Homo sapiens: one gene and its partner. The protein of the gene in region 1 purifies or fractionates together with the protein of each later gene. This does not show direct contact. Each region holds a gene or a part of one and is shown on either strand. Other genes may lie near its edges.

Region 1 (3,749 bases):
ACTCAGCCCTGGGAGTCCAAAGACATTTTAAACAGAGCCTCTCTTCACATTTATTAATTCCTGGGAGGAATGAGGGAGGCTTCTCCAGCCCCCCAGAGACCCCGGCCTTGTGCTGCAACAGGAGGGGAGGGAGCCAGTCCAGAATCCCCGGCACTTCTGAGGACACCAACAGCACCCTGGGCCCGCGGCTGCATCAGCTTTCTAGACAACGGGAGAAAAGAGAAATGGTGGAGGAGGGGAAATCCTATGCCCTCCTCCTCGCGGAAATCAAGGCCGACCTCCCTGACGCCCCCCCGGAAGGAAGCGCGTGGTCGGCTGCCAGCCGAGACCCCCATCTGCGCCTCCAGCTGCAGGGCCTTTGCTGGGCGGTTCCTCGCCCGCAATTCCCCCACGAGCCCTGGGGAGACCCAGCGCTAACCAGGGGTGCCCAAGGGAGGAGCCGGGAGAGGCCCTCCTGGAGGTGGGCACAGCCCAGGCAAACATCAGCAGACGGAACCAGCACCCGGGACCCAGGGAAACGTCACCTGCCACCAGGAGCTCCACAGGGTCGCTGAGCTCCGATTCGAAGGTGTGGGGCACCCAGGAGCGGTAGCGGCACCTGTAGTTGCCGGCGTGCTGGGGCCCCACGAAGATCAGCTCGAGGTTCGCCGCGGCCCCGGGGGTGCGGACCGTCTTCACGGCCTTCGTCTCGCCCTCGCGCAGCAGCTCGAAGGTGACGTCGGGGATGGGTCCCTCGCAGCGCAGGACGGCATCTCGGCCCGCCAGGACCGCCCCACTCCACGTCGCCCGGAGCTGAGGCCTGGGAGGGGGTCCTGGGCGGAGCGGGCGGGTGGTCGGGCCAGGCCACGCCCCAGGCCACGCCCCAGGCCACACCCCAGGCCACACCCCAGGCCGCGCCCGCGCCTGCGCCTCAGCCCCGGCTTCATCTTCCCTGTCTTGTTCCTGGGCGCAGAGGGCTCCTCCGGCGCCGCCGAGCTGCGCCCGCTGCCTTCACACCCCGGACATCCGCGCCACACGTGAGTGTCCCCGCACCCCTCCCCCAGGACCGTGGAAGTCCCAGATTCGGGCCTGCTCTGGGGCTTCTGGGGTCCCCAGCCTCGGTCACTCTGACGGGTGAAGGGAAGAAGAAATGATGGAGAAAACGGTGCTCCTTCATGGAGGGACCAAAAAAGGACATACAATCTATGTCAATAGATGAGGGTTTTCCCTCCATAAGTTTAACTTTAAAAGTGTATTTAAGGTGCCGGGCGCAGTGGCTCACACCTGTAATCTCAGCACTTTGAGAGGCCGAGGCAGGCGGATTGCCTGAGCTCAGGAGTTCCAGACCAGCCTGGGTAACACGGTGAAACCCCGTCTCTACTAAAATACAAAAAATTAGCCGGGCGTGGCAGCGTGCGCCTGTAATCCCAGCTACTCGGGAGGTGGAGGCAGGAAAATTGCTTGAACCTGGGAGGCAGAGGTTTCAGTGAGCCAAGATTGCGCCACTGCACTCCAGCCCGGGTGACAGAGTGACACTCCGTCTCAAAAACAAACAAACAAAACAAAACTGTAAGGAATCAAATGTTACAAAATCCTGGAAGATTTTGGTAATGCTGTTGATAATTTCAGGGAAATTAATGAAGTACATGTAAGTGCTTGATTTAAATGTGTATTTTATTCAATAGTTTGAGTATCTTGCCATGGAAGATACTAGCCCAGCCTAGCAGAAAAGTGCAATATGTATAATATACTTTCGCATTTTAAAAGTTATATTCCCTATCCATTTTGAAATGCTAGCCAAACTACATGAAGTTATTTGCAATTAATTGTAAGCTAATCAGGAATTTTGAAAGCTTGATTGGATTAACAAACTATAATGTTGAAATTTGGTAAAATCATAATGTTAATTTTTACTGTGAAACGTTTTCTTGTAAGATAGATATACACATCCTAGTTTAATTTTGTGTCTTAGTGTGGATTTACAAATTTACTACAGTTATTCTGAGCCCAGGAACCCAATCAGATTTCAGGCCAGTTTGATACTGGCTGTTCTTAATTCTAACAGGAGAGTAGGACATCATACTAAATGTTATGTCAGTGGGACTGTGTTGTCTTTGGAGCTTAGTAAATTAATCATTTTCTTCAGACTTTAAGGAGAGTGATAAATAAAATTTGGAGTCATAGGATATAGATGTACAATTTAAAGATTAAACATTTTTTTTTTTTTTGAGATGGAGTTTTGCTCTTGTTGCCCAGGCTGGAATGCAGTGGCATGACCTGGACTCACTGCAAACTCCACCTCCCGGGTTAAAGCAATTCTCCTGCCTCAGCCTCCCAAGTGGCTGGGATTACAGGCATGTGCCACCACAGCTGGCTAATTTTGTATTTTTAGTAGAGACAGGGTTTCTCCATGTTGGCCAGGCTGCTCTTGAACTCCTGATTTTGTGATCCACCCGCCTTGGCCTCCCAAAGTGCTGTGATTACAGGCGTGAGCCACCTTGCCTGGCCAAGATTAAACATTTTTCATCAATTGTGGATGGTGGCTTATAACACTGCAAGAATAGGCTGGGCATGGTGACTCACAAGTGTAATCCCAGCACTTTGGGAGGCAGAGGCGGGCAGATCACAAGGTCAGGAGGTCAAGACCAGCCCAGCCAACATAGCAAAACCCGGTCTCTACTAAAAATACGAAAATTAGGTGGGCATGGTGGCATGCGCCTCTAATACCAGCTACTCAGGAGGCTGAGGCAGGAGAACTGCCTGAACCCAGAAGGCGAAAGTTGCAGTGAGCTGAGACTGCACCACTGCACTCCGGCCTGCAAGAATAAAAGTAAGTTATCCAAAAAAAAAACAAAAAGGAGAAGAAAAGGGAGGAATGAAGGAGAGAGATGGGGTTGGGGGGCAGAGATGAGAGAGAGAGAAAGAAGAAAAAAGAAGAAAGAAAAGAGAGAAAGAAGGAAGGAAGAAAGAAAGAAGGAAAGAGAAAGAAAGAAAGAGGAAGGAAGGCAGGAAAGAAAAGAAAGAAAGTGAAAGAAAAGAGAAAACGGTGCTCCCAGCAAAGGGTACGACCTCAAGATCTGGAGGTCAGACCTGTGCCCTCACGCTCTGCTGGGCTCTGAGTCCTGGAGACGTCGATGAGGAAATCAGAGGGACAAACAGAGCTGGGGACGGCGGGGATGGGGAGAAGGACACATCAGCCGTGCGCCTGCGGGACCGGGGCCGGGGCGGGGGGTCCAGTATGACGACTGACATGGCCAGTAATAAAACAAGGCAGCCACAGAGCTGCAGGGATCTGAACAAGAAAACCTGGGGCCAGCCTCCCTGCTGCCGACCACCACGCTACACGTGACCTACGGGCTTGCGTCCGTGGGAAATAAGCCGAAATTCCAGGCGTCCCCAGACCCTCGACCACCGATCGCCTGCTCCCCGCCGGGGTAGGCGATGGGGGCTGAACCAAGGCCCAGAGCGCCGCCGTCGGACGCCCAAGGAAAGAGGGGAAAGACAGGAGGCCCCGAGGGGCACTGAACCCGCGCCCGCCCTCGCTGGTGCCCCGCCAGCTCACCGTCCACGTGCAGCTCCAAGCGCTCGCTGGGCGCGGAGCCCCCGAAAGGCGGCTTCAGGTCCACGTAGACGCAGCTGTAGTTGGCGGAGTCAGCCACGGAAATGTTGTGCAGCTCGAAGAGCGCCTCGGTCCCAGCGGGGCTCTGGAAACGGTGCACGCGGCGCCCGCCCCTGTCCTCGCGCACCAGGGCGAAGCGCGCGCCCTCCAG
Region 2 (3,749 bases), on another chromosome or scaffold:
ACCTTAGCCTCCCAAGTAGCTGGGACTACAGGTGTGCACCACTACGCCCAGCTGATTTTTGTATTTTTTGTAGAGACAAGGTTTTGCCATGTTGCTCAGGATGGTCTCAAACTCCTGGGCTCAAGTGATCTACCTGCCTCAGACTTCCAAAGTGTTGGGATTACAGGCATGTGCCATGGCTCCCAGCCAAGTCAACTTTCAAAGTGAAGTAAATTAAATGAAGTTTAAGGAGTTTTAACTGAAATCTACCAACATGCATTTACGGAGATCCCATAATTTATATGCAATAGAAAACTAAAAATCAGTCATTAACTTTTCCTTCAAAACGCTTGTATCAGAACTGATACAAGAAATGAGCAGCAAATTACATAAAGCAGTAGCCAACGGAGGGCTGAATGGGGTAGTAACTCAGTCTTAGATACATCAACATCTATGTCAACTGGCACTAGTATGAAGGGGTTGAGGAGAATGGATTACATAGTCACCAATATTTATGCAGTGCTATACAGAAAAACACAAATTGTATTAAGAAAAAAAAGAAGAAGAAGAACTGAAGTGAGGTTGAGATAAATCAGTGGCCCAAAACAAGATGCATTTGAACCATGGTGAAATGGAATGCTTACCTCTGTCATATCCTCCCTGCTTCTGCCAAGCTTAGGCTGCTCTTCCACACCAGCATAAACAACCATATTCCTATATAGTAAGAGTTCATATTTATCATACGCATAGAAAAAAATATTAGAGCTTCATGGATAGAAAGCATTAGAAGGCACTTTTAATGAACTCTAACTAGATGCTAAGTTTGGGGAGATGAGTACAGCAGTAACAGTCTAGGCCTTAAAAATCTATCAGATCACTGTGTCCTAATGACAAATGGAGTAAATAAGGAGAGAAAAATATGTATTTCTCTGGGCTGGTTTAGGCATATGTATTATTAATAGGTAGGAATATAATTTAGAGCAGCTATTAATAACCTCCTTAGCCATATAACCATGGGATTCAGAAAGGCTAAGGGTTTTTGCACAAGGAAAGAGGCAGGAATGAGGCATAGCATTGGCAGGAGCAAAAGAAAGAGAGGACTAGGGAAGGGGAAAGATAAAAGAACCTTCAAGTGCCTCTGAACCTCCCCAGAAACCAAAATATGATAAAGCAGTTATATCAAAGGCATTTAATGATAAGGTGCACAGTAAGTTACTTACTTTGGCCAGGTGTAGTATCCCCAGTGAGTTTTTTCCACAAAGCAACTTGACTCCCATTCTTTTTTAGTTCTTGGTATAGTTTTGCTGTCATAATGCAACCAATGATTATCAGGCCTATCACCAGCAATAATTTGGGTGGGTTTAGGGCATCCACCTAAGGAAAAGACAATCACATTTGATGAATTTAAAAATATTCGCCCAACAATTATTACCAAATTTCAATCAACAGTACCAGCATAACTTTGTCTTCACAAAACAACACTACAAAAATAACATTAAGATAACATATATATGAGCAATTGGAGGCACATTTCAAAACAGAGTAGATGGCATTATCTACTAAATTGTGTTGAATCAGTTATTTTGGGGGAGAGATCAAGTATGAAACACACTTCATTCCTTTTACCAAAATTAAAAGGATTAATTTTGTTTAAACTATTTAGATTTGAAATAATAATTTCAGACTTACAGAGCTCAAAAAATTCCCACATCTTTTACTGAGACACCCAAATTTTGACATTTTACCATGCATACTTTGATATTCTCTCTCTCTCCACACATACTTATCTAAACTATGAGTATAAACTGTAGACATCATCTCAAATAATCAAAATACAATTCTCAAAAAAGCTTTCATTAATACAGTAAAATTATTTCATCAACAGACTTTACTCAAATTTTGACAGTTGTCCCACTGAATGTACTTTATATGAAAAAAATTAAAACATTTTCTTCTGGACTATAATCCAATCCAGGATTAAACATTGCATTAAAGGAAACTAAAGATACCATACAATTTAAATGCAATGTTTTAATCCTGGATTGGAGACCAGAAAAAAATGGTTTTTTCTTCTGAAAAATTCTGGTAATACAATAAGGTATGAGGAAGAAAATTCACCTTGTCCCTAATCCCACCACCCAAAGAGAAACATTTAACAAATTAATAACAGCAATTTAAGTCTTTGAAATACAGTTGATAAAATAATTAGTATAATTGCTTAGTAGGTGAGATAAATATGAAGGCAGAAAGAGTCAATCTATTTTTGTAAATAGTTATCACTAGCTTTTACTAAGTCAACTGTTTCCTTCATAATATTATTTATATTTTGTGTTAATATCCATAGAACAATATTTGAGGTCAAGAACTAGAATTTATACATGTCAAGAAAATTTTCTGAGTTTTATTGGAAAGCACTATTAATTACTTCTGGTAGTACTCACTGATTTCACAGGGGTTAATGGTCAGCTTTTTGTGGGTTCTTTTTAGCTGTTTAAGGATACCAGCAACAGCTGAGATAGCCATCTAGAAAAGGAAAAAGGTACACATTCATAAAAAAAAGTTTAAATCACTTAACTGGTTGTCTGCTTTACTCAAAGCAGAAATAGGATTCTGTTTCTTTAAAAAAACACCTCGCCTATCGACATCTGGCAGTACATCCATGTGAGTGCTAAATCTGACTTAGAATGAATCATAGGCAGTTCTTACTCTACAGTCTTGACACATGCTAGTCTCTCTGCCTAGAAAACTTTGACCCCTTCTTTGTTAAACCAATACCTGCTCATTCTTCAAATCTTAGCCTCAGGGTTTTTTTTTTTTTTTTTTTTGACAGAGTTTTCACTCTTGTTGCCCAGGCTGTAGTGCAATGGCACAATCTCAGCTCACTGCAACCTCCCCCTCCCGGGTTCAAGCGATTCTACTGCCTCAGCCTCCCAAGTAGGTGGGATTACAGGCGTGTGCCACCATGCCCAGCTAATTTTGTACTTCTAGTAGAGACAGGGTTTCTCCATGTTGGTCAGGCTGGTCTTGAACTCCTGACCTCAGGTGATCCACCTGCCTCAGCCTCCCAAAGTGCTGGGATTACAGGCATGAGCCACCAAGCCCTGCCCAGCCTCAGGGTATTTTTAAAGGTCTTTCTCCAATGCTTCAGCTTAGGCCATCTCCCCAACCCCCACCTCACCTCTAACACTTGGAGAGTAAAAAGCTATACCCTCGAGTTTCTTGCCCCTCCTGAAACACACTGCACACCTAATTTTCTAATTGTTAAATCTTTCCCATTAGCCTATAAACTTATTTCCTGCTATATCCCCAGTCTTTTAAACAGAGTGCCTAAACATGTTCATTTGTTAGATGAATCATTATCATCTCTGAATCAACAGGGGGAGATTTCAAATCAATACACTTCAAGATATTTATTAACCAAGTGTGTATTGCTTGTGAAGAATTTAAAGACTTCAGGTCACGTACATATTCTCAAACCCAAGACTGTAGCTAAAACAAGGTATGTACCTTTCGAACTACAATTGCATCATGGTTGAGATTCTCAACAAAAAACCGTATGGCACGAAGAGGCAACACTCGGTCATCTCTCAGCAGTAGAGACAGAAGCCCAATGCCTATATGTTCAAATTTCCAGGGCCTTAAAAGGAGGAAAAATAACAAAGCATATCACACATAAAACCACTTGGAAAAAAAAAACTGTATGTGAAACACCTTATAATTTTAAATTTCTCAAGAATTAAAATAGGTCTAGTGAAGAATACTGCTCCTAT

Evidence for each region. The genes of interacting proteins can lie anywhere in the genome.
Region 2: the proteins of A1BG (region 1) and PSME4 purify together in Homo sapiens (affinity purification with mass spectrometry; 2 studies listed by BioGRID and IntAct, with this or other methods). This does not show direct contact.

What each region holds. Positions count from the first base shown.
Region 1 is NC_000019.10:58,346,829-58,350,577, forward strand, and holds part of A1BG (alpha-1B-glycoprotein precursor), read right to left. Parts: coding exon 3,542-3,749; intron 813-3,541; coding exon 525-812; intron 202-524; coding exon 194-201; 3' UTR 1-193.
Region 2 is NC_000002.12:53,894,384-53,898,132, forward strand, and holds part of PSME4 (proteasome activator complex subunit 4), read right to left. Parts: intron 3,617-3,749; coding exon 3,487-3,616; intron 2,503-3,486; coding exon 2,421-2,502; intron 1,354-2,420; coding exon 1,200-1,353; intron 694-1,199; coding exon 624-693; intron 1-623. UniProt on the Homo sapiens protein: Associated component of the proteasome that specifically recognizes acetylated histones and promotes ATP- and ubiquitin-independent degradation of core histones during spermatogenesis and DNA damage response.